2 separate regions of the Homo sapiens genome follow, and region 2 is linked to region 1. The links come from fine-mapping of genetic effects on gene expression. A gene starts in region 1. The other region holds a variant in brackets. All regions are shown on one strand. Distances are between the middles of the regions.

The links. PIP is the estimated chance that this variant, and not a neighbour inherited with it, causes the effect. A credible set is the group of variants that fine-mapping cannot tell apart.
Region 2: its variant is the best candidate, but not a certain one, in a credible set for the expression of TM6SF1 in monocytes (Quach 2016, PIP 0.84).

What each region holds. Positions count from the first base shown.
Region 1 is chr15:83,105,052-83,109,437 of GRCh38, reverse strand. It overlaps TM6SF1 (transmembrane 6 superfamily member 1), which reads right to left and starts at 1,793. Exons shown (of 10, transcript NM_023003.5): 1 at 1,666-1,793. The coding sequence starts at 1,757. RefSeq lists silencers at 1,736-1,855, 1,886-2,165.
Region 2 is chr15:83,084,255-83,088,640 of GRCh38, reverse strand. No RefSeq gene overlaps it. Among named protein-coding and RNA genes, the nearest start is that of MIR4515, 19 kb to the right of the region's middle. The variant A/CA (reference allele first, on the strand shown) is at 2,328.

The sequences.
Region 1 (4,386 bases):
TAGTTCAGTCTGTATTCAGTAAATGCCATCACCATCTTCCCAGTGGCTGAGGCCAAAACCTAGGGCTCATCCTCAAATCCTCTGCTGCCATGCAACCCTCTTCAGTAAGCCCCATCTGTTCACCTTCCAAAATACCTACTACGCCCATCCAATTCCTTCCCCTGCACTGCTCCATTTTCCTGCCCGACAGGCTCCATTCCCAGATCTTCCCATAGCTCAAGTGTTACCTCCTCCTAGAAGCCTTCCCTGGCCACCAGCCCCCTCCCCAGTCACCCTATTTTATTATCTTCATAGCATGTCACTATCGATGTATTAATGTTTGTTGATGTCTATCTCATTACCTGCCTCCACAGCCTCTTCTGGCTTGTTCATAGCTATGTCACCAACACTTGGAACAGTGCCAAACACACAGTAGGCACTCAGTATATCTTCACTGAACTACCCGTAATGCCATTTTTTGGAGCACAGGGTCCCCCATGCACTATATTGACAGGCATGTAATATTCGGTGGCCCAGAGCAGCTGCCTCCAGGGGATGCCTCCAGAGACTGGGCCAGACCAAGGGTAGACACTGCTGGTGCCTGGTGAGCACTCAGTGTGGGTGCTGCCTGTATCAGGCGGCCAGGCAGCTGGAGAGGAGGAAGTTACCACCCTATGTACAGACACTCCACGGCCTGACCAGCTGAAGGGGGTTTGCAGCCTACAGACTGATGCAATTTCCTTAGCACCAACAGCTGAGAGACATAGCAGGTTACTTCCTCCTCCCTCCAGACAGCAACCAACATCAGCAGGAACAGAGGCTGGCGCCTGTCCCAACACCCGGCGACCCTCAGGCCTTCAGCTGCCGGCTGCAGGTTAGTCCGTGATCCCTGCAGTGGAGTGGGAGGCAGGGCTTCGAACCCAAGCCCTGTCCCCCTCCATCAGCCCCACCCATTTCCTTCACATTGAAGTGTTCTGCCTCTGCTGCCTGTCCCCATCCTACCCCAGCGCAGGCACTGGGAAGCACTTCTCCATTCACAACGCCCCTTCACAAAGAGGTCTCGGTGGAACCTTACAATAGGACGCACACAAAGTCCACTTGACCGGAAAACCGAGGCCAGACCACACCGTCAGTGCCAAACACCGTCAGGCCAGACACCGTCAGTGCCAAAGCCAGGCCTAGAACCCACGTCTCTGCCTGTTGGTTCCGGGCTATTTCTGCTAGTCATTCACAACAGTTTCTAAAATTAATAAGAAATGATAAGTATGCGAAAGTCCATACATGGAAACGTTCCCGTGAGATGCAAAAAGAACAAGGCACAAACGAGCTGACACGGCCAGGTTCGTAGTGTCCGTGTTTGTTCCGCTCCCCACCGGCCCCTGGGCCCCTCCAGGGCAGGGGCATGGCCGTATTGACGCCTGTGACCCCGGGCACCTGGCGCGGTGCTGGCACCAACATCCCGAAATGCGCCAGCCTGGGCACCTCAGGGCCCGGCTCCAAGACCCGGCCCGTGCGACCCCTGGGGCGCCCCCCTAGTCTGGCCAGGCGCGGGGAGCCCCTGCGGCCACGAACCTCTGTCCCGCGGCGGACGGTCCCAGCCCCCTCGGAAAAGTTGCGAGGCTCCCGTCGCGGCGAGCCAACTCCCGCCGCCCCTCGGCGCGACCCCCGCCGCGCCGGCTCACTCACTCATGCTGGGCCGCCAGGTGGTTGAAGACATAGGTGACCGGGATGGCCGAGAGGGACAGCACGAAGACCCCGGTGGCCGCAGAGGCACTCATCGCAGCCGCCGCGCCGCTCGCCCTTCACCGCATCCCGCTGGGCGCCCCGCCCCAGCTTCCGGCGGCGCCCGCGCCCCCTTGGCGCTTGCCCTTCGAGGCGCCTCAGCCGCGCCCCCCGCGTGGCGCCCTCAGCGGCGTCCCCTCAGCGGTGTCTCCTCCGCGCGCCCTCCCAGCCCGCAGCCGTCCCCCGCGCCTGGCCCCGTCGCCCCAAGTGCGCAGGGCCGCGGTGCAGTCCCGGGAGGCGTCCTTGCAGTGCTCCTGCCAGGGGCGCCACGGCTCAGCGGCAAGCGCCCGGCGGCGCCGAGGGGCGGCGACACCCCCGCGCAGGGACAGGTGCCCCTGGCGGCGCGCGCTCCGAGGGAGGGCCCGGGGCACGGCCGGGAACCGGTCATCGAAGAGCTGGAGAGGCGCGGGGCTGAGCTGCGGTCCGGGAAAGGTGGAACCAGATCCGAGGGTGTCAGAGGAGGAAGGGCCCGCGGGATCGTCTATGGGGGAGCCCACGGCCCAGAAGTGGGAAAGGACAAAATGCCCCTGAAACCTCGGAACCTCTCCGCTCCAGTAGCCATCGGCGGGCTGCTGCACGGAGCCGGCATCCGGTTTTTAAACCTGGCTCTCCAGTCACCAGCTGTTGACTTTGGTCAAATTACTTAACCTCTCTGTCTTTTCCCTTATCTGGGAAATGGGGATAACACACTTCATAGTGTGACTGTGGGGTTAACTGAGTTCATACCTACGAAGCGCGTTATCCTGTGCTGCTCACTACACCACCTCCTGCGATTCTTTTTTTTTTTTTTTCTTTAATTGAAATGGACATAAATGCTGAGACTCTAAGAGACTAGAGCGCCATTCATTGCTATTCCAGGAAGCATTCCTGGAGGCCAGGTGCCCACCAGCCAGCCTGCATTGGGCCCTGCAGGGTACAAAGACTGGAAGATAAGCCTCTTCCTCTGAATGATAGATGCCTACGGGTATGGAAAATATTGTGTGTCAAGTGTTGTGGCTATCTGAAGGGCAGTGAGTTCCAGGAGAACAGCTCAAGCAACTGAGGGAGGTACCGGCATGTACTTACTGTCTTTACAACTTCCAGGGAATTTAAGAGACCATTTATGTGTTTTTGCTGTTGCCATTTGAGGGGTTTATTTTATTTATTTATTTATTTATTTATTTATTATTTTTATTTTTTTTTTTTTTTGAGACAGAGTCTCGCTCTGTCACCCAGGCTGGAGTGCAGTGGTGCAATCTTGGCTCACTGCAAGCTCCACCTCCCGGGGTTCACGCCATTCTGCCTCAGCCTCCAGAGTAGCTGGGACTACAGGTGCCCGCCACCGCGCCGGGCTAATTTTTTGTATTTTTAGTAGAGACGGGGTTTCACCGTGGTCTTGATCTCCTGACCTCGTGATCCGCCCGCCTCGGCCTCCCAAAGTGCTGGGATTACAGGCGTGAGCCACCGCGCCCAGCCTATTTTTATTTTTATTTTTTTAAGACAGGGTCTCACTCTGCAAACCAGGCTAGAGGCAGTGGAGAGATGAGGGCTCACTGCAGTCCCCACTTTCCCACGCCAAGCCATCCTCCCAGCTTAGCCTCCTTAGCTCCTGGGACTACAGTCTCGCACCACTTCTTTGTAGAGGCAGGGTCTCACTATGTTGCCCAAGCTGGTCTCAAACTCCTGGGCTCAAGTGATCCTCCCTCCTCGGCCTCCCAAAGTGCTGGGATTACAGGTGTGAGCCACCGCACCTAGCCTCTAAAAGACCATTTGGCTCATTTTAGACATGAGGAAAATGAGCTACGAGGAGGTATGGCCTGCTCCAGGGCCACTCCACTTTTCAAATGCCAGTTCTCCTAATCCTTCATCCTAGTTCTTCTTGAAGGCTTCTCCAGCTCTGAGTGCATAACGTTTAAGCCTTGGCCCACACTGTGACATATCCAAAGTTTCTCCAAGAGGTGTCCTCACCTGTCACCTGCACATCACCCTCTTCCACCCCTAACCTTCACCACTCTCCTTAAACTCCTACTTCCTCCCTGACAAGAGACACTTCCTCCTATACCTCTGAGCTCCCAGCCAGGCTCCCAAGCCAGCCCATCCCTTCCATCAACACCCAACCTTGTTGCATCAGTCTCAGAGCTGCTCCCTCAGAGCCCACAAGGGACCCAAGTGACATGGCAAAGTTTCAAGGTATTGTGATATACATATTGGGAATTACATGATTTTTTTGTTGACAACAGTTTCTCTTTTTTTTTTTTTTTTTTTTTTTTTTTTTTTTTTTTTTTTGAGATGGAGTCTCGCTCTGTCACCCAGGCTGGAGTGCAGTGGCGGGATCTCGGCTCACTGCAAGCTCCGCCTCCCGGGTTCACGCCATTCTCCTGCCTCAGCCTCCCAAGTAGCTGGGACTACAGGCGCCCGCCACTACGCCCGGCTAATTTTTTGTATTTTTAGTAGAGACGGGGTTTCACCGTTTTAGCCGGGATGGTCTCGATCTCCTGACCTCGTGATCCGCCCGCCTCGGCCTCCCAAAGTGCTGGGATTACAGGCGTGAGCCACCGCGCCCGGCCAGTTTCTCTCTTAATGCTGAAAATATGAGTGGTCAGAATGCTTGTAGTTGGGAAGAGTTTTTCGCAGGAACCTTCCCTG
Region 2 (4,386 bases), 21 kb after region 1:
GGTCAACCACCAAGCCCAGTGAGGTCAAATAACATGACAGAAAAAGACTCATGGACTTGGCAGGTAGGAGATCACCAGCCAGTGGCCTTAGAGCCACTCAGGGGAGTGGTGGCCAGAGCCAGACCACAGCGGCATGAAGACTGTGAGGAGATGAAAATGTGGAGTGAAGAAACTTTGATAGGAAGGAAGAAGAAAGGAAGACACTCAGAAGCTGAAGCAGAGGCTTTGAGGAGATGTTTTTCTGTTAGGGAAATTAGTTATGTATTTGTGGATATCAAGGAAAGGAACCAGTGGAAATGGAGACATCAAAGTCACCAGAAAGGAAATGGACAGGCCAGGCACGGTGGTTCACGCCTGTAATCCCATCACTCTGGGAGGCTGAGGCGGGTGGATCACCTGAGGTCAGGAGTTCGAGACCAACCTGGCCAACGTGGAGAAACCCCATCTCTACTAAAAATACAAAATTAGCCGGGCATGGTGGCGCATGCCTGTAATTGCAGCTACCTAGGAGGCTGAGGCAGGAGAATTGCTTGAACTCGGGAGATGGAGGTTGTGGTGAGCCAAGATCGCAACACTGCACTGCAGTCTGGCCAACAAAAGCAAAACTCCGTCTCAAAAAAAAAAAAGAAAAAAAAATGGACAGGTAATTTAGCAAGACAGCAAGGGAATAAACTCAACAGCAAAGATGGAAAATTTAGCCTTGAAAAGAAGGGAAATTTCTGAGGCTGGAAGGAAAGAGATAAGCAGACCTACTTATAGCTGGGTTGATTTAGTTTCTGTTGGCTGGGAAATGAGTAAAGATGGGCAAAGTTAAATAAAATGTGTTCACATAATCAGTCTGGTCTATATTTATTTCCCTGTAACCAGAGAGGCAGCATATTCTAGCATCGTAGACTCTGAAACCCAACCTGCTGCTTTGAATTTTACTTCTGGCCATGACATGCTTTTTCGTGGAAGGTCATATTTATATCACTGCAGTAGAATCACAGCAACTGTGCCTAGTCTTCATAGATTATTTAAAAGATTCAGAACATGTGGGACAGATAATTTCAGTCCTTGGAGCCCTATTATTATTTTTATTGACACAACAACAGCCTTGATAATGTGGTATAAACTGGCCTAAATTTAGTTATTTATCTTATATTTGACTGTATCAAAGCAGTGGGTAAGACAGCTAATAATAAAAGCACAATTGGACAGTTAAAATGGATTAAGAAGAAAAACAACTATGACAAAAATGTAAACAATAACAATTACAGAAATGTAAATTTGAAAAATGAGGCATCTTGTGTTAATCAAAAGTGAAGTCAAATTATTAAATCCTTGTAGGGTAGACTTTAGGAAAAGAGTAATACAGAAATTGTCAGCCAGTATTGAAATTGGTTTGGTTCTTTGAATACTTGCTAACATTTGTTGAGCACTTATCCTACATTGGGCACCGTTCTAATATGTATTCATCTCATTTTAATTTAACCCTCTGAGGTAGATCATGTTACTATTATCGTCATTCCTATTTTCCAAGTAAGGAAACTAGGGCACAGAAAGGTTAAGTAAATTGGCCAAGGTCTTATAGCAAATAAGTGGCCCAGCTGCAGTTCAAAACCAGGTAGACTAACTTTACAGCCCTTGCTCTTAACTAATACTCTAGATCTGCAGTTCTCAAACGGGTCTCACGGACACTCCACGTTCTTAAAAATTATTGAGGCTTTCTTGATAAAACATTCAGCAAACTAGGAATAGAAGGAGACTATCCTCAACCTGATGAAAAACACAGCTAACATCATACTCAATGGTAAAAAGCAAAATTTTCCTCTTTTTTTTTTTTCAGGTGGAGTTTCATTCTTGTTGCCTAGGATAGAGTGCAATGGCGCGATCTCGGCTCATCGCAACCTCTGTCTCCTGGGTTCAAGTGATTCTCCTGCCTCAGCCTCCCAAGTAGCTGGTATTACAGGCATGTGCCACAACACCTGGCTAATTTTGTATTTTTAGTACAGACGGGGGTTTCTACATGTTGGTCAAGCTAGTGTCGAACTCCCAACCTCAGGTGATCCACCTATCTCGGCCTCCCAAAGTGCTGGGATTACAGGCATGAGCCACTGTGCCCGGCCAACTTTTCTCTTAAGATCAGGGATAAGACAAGGATGCCTGTTTTCACCACTGCTATTCAACACTGTACTAGAACTCCTAGATGGAGCAATTAGCCAAGAAAAAGAAAAAAAAAAAAGCATCCAAATTGGAAGGGAGGAAGTAAAATTATCTTTATTAACAGATGACATGATCCTATATATAGAAAACCACAAAGAATACACACACACACACACACACAA[A/CA]AAAGCCCTACAAAAAGGCTGGGTGCAGTGGCTCACGCTTGTAATCCCAACACTTTGGGAGCCCAAGGCGAGCAGATTACCTAAAGTCAGGAGTTCGAGACCAGTCTGGCCAACATGGTGAAACCCCGTCTCTACTGAAAATACAAAAATTAGCTGGGTGTGGTGGCATGCGCCTATAATCCCAGCTACTCAGGAAGCTGAGGCAGGAGAATTGCTTGAACCTGGGAGGCAGAGGTTACAGTGAGCTGAGATTGCACCACTGTACTCCAGCCTGGGCAACAGAGTGAGACTCCGTCTCAAAAAACAAACAAAAAAAATGAAAACAAAAAACACACAAAAAAACAAACTCTTCAATGTCTGGCTTAATAGGAGACAGCAGGATTCTCTGCTTCTGCATTCCATCTGTTTCAGTATCGCAAGTCAAGTAGCCTTTGGAAAACCCCACTGCACGCTCCTGAGACAATGAGAGTAAAAAAGGCAAAAATGTCTTAGTATTTTTATGAAAATGCTTTTGATCTCACAAATCACTTGAAGGGTCTCCATGATCCTCAGGACCCCAGACCATATTCTAAAAACTTCTACCACGTACTGTATAGACAGGGACTGCTTCATGGACATAGGACAGGTGCAGTCTCACAGGGCCCTGTGCTCTGGAGAGCCCCCTATTTGAGGTTTAGTGCTTTGCAGTTGCCATCTTGAAAAATTCTTACTCATTTTATCTTCTTTTTTTTTGAGACGGAGTCTCGCTCTGTCACCAGGCTGGAGTGCAATGGTGTGATCTTGGCTCACTGCAACCTCTGCCTCCCAGGTTCAAGTGATTCTCCTGCCTCAGTCTCCCAAGTAGCTGGGGCTACAGGTGTGTGCCACCACACCTGGCTAATTTTAGTATTTTTAGTAGAAACGGGGTTTCCCCACATTGGCCAGGCTGGTCTCGAACTTCTGACCTCAAGTGATCCGCCCACCTTGGCCTCCCAAAGTGCAGGATTACAGGTGTGGGCCACTGTGCCTGGCCCTTAGTAATTTGATCTTTGAATCTGTGTGTTGTAAGTGAAGTCTGATGAAACAACAGGGCATGCACTGGAGCTTGCACCCTGGCTCATGGAGGGTCCCACCTCCTGCTGCCTCCCCACTTCCCAGGGACCAACCCAAGCCACTTGCTTCCTACCCCCTGGTGCCTTGGGCCTCACTTGGCCCGTCTCCCCAACTCCTGCCCAGCAACCACTGTCACCCTCCATCTCTGGTGGGAACCTTGGCACAGGAACCAGAAGATCAGAGTTAGGCACGGGCACCCAGGTTGTAACTCATGGGAAGGTATGGCAGCAACCTACCTCACCCAGACTGGCAATGCCACGATGCGTTCAGTAGCAACTCTTAAGGTATTTTAACAGATGTACTATACATCTGTAGCAACTATAAAGGTATTTTAACAGATGTATTATACATCTATAGTAACTATAAAGGTATTTTAACAGATGTATTAGTTATTAAAATCAAAAATATAAACTAGGCTGGGCGTGGTGGCTCATACCTATAATCCCAGAACTTTGGGAGGCCAAGGCGGGCGGATCATAAGGTCAAGAGATAGAGACCATCCTGGCCAACATGGTGAAACCTCGTCTCTACTAAAAATACAAAAATCAATTGGGCATGGTGGTGCACGCCTGTAGACCCAGCTACTCGGGAGGCTGAGGCAGGAGAATTGCTTGAACCCAGGAGGTGGAGGTTACAGTGAGCCGAGATCATGCCACTGCACTCCAGCATGAGCAACAGAGAGAGACTCTGTCTCAAAAAATATATATATATACACTAAATGATTGATAATAGAAAATTTTTTCTATTGAAAATAGAAAAATGACCTAGAGAAAGTAGTTTTTTCTTCATCTCCTACTATATCTCCTCCCCTAATATTCACCATCTCAGCTCTTATCCATTGAGAAGTCCTAGAAAAAAATCATGAGCACAGAAGAAATGAGCTCCCCTGGGGCCACATTCTGGTTTCTAGATATATTTCCCACTGAAGGGAACAAATGGTCCTGGGAGAAAGGGCTGATTCCAGGTC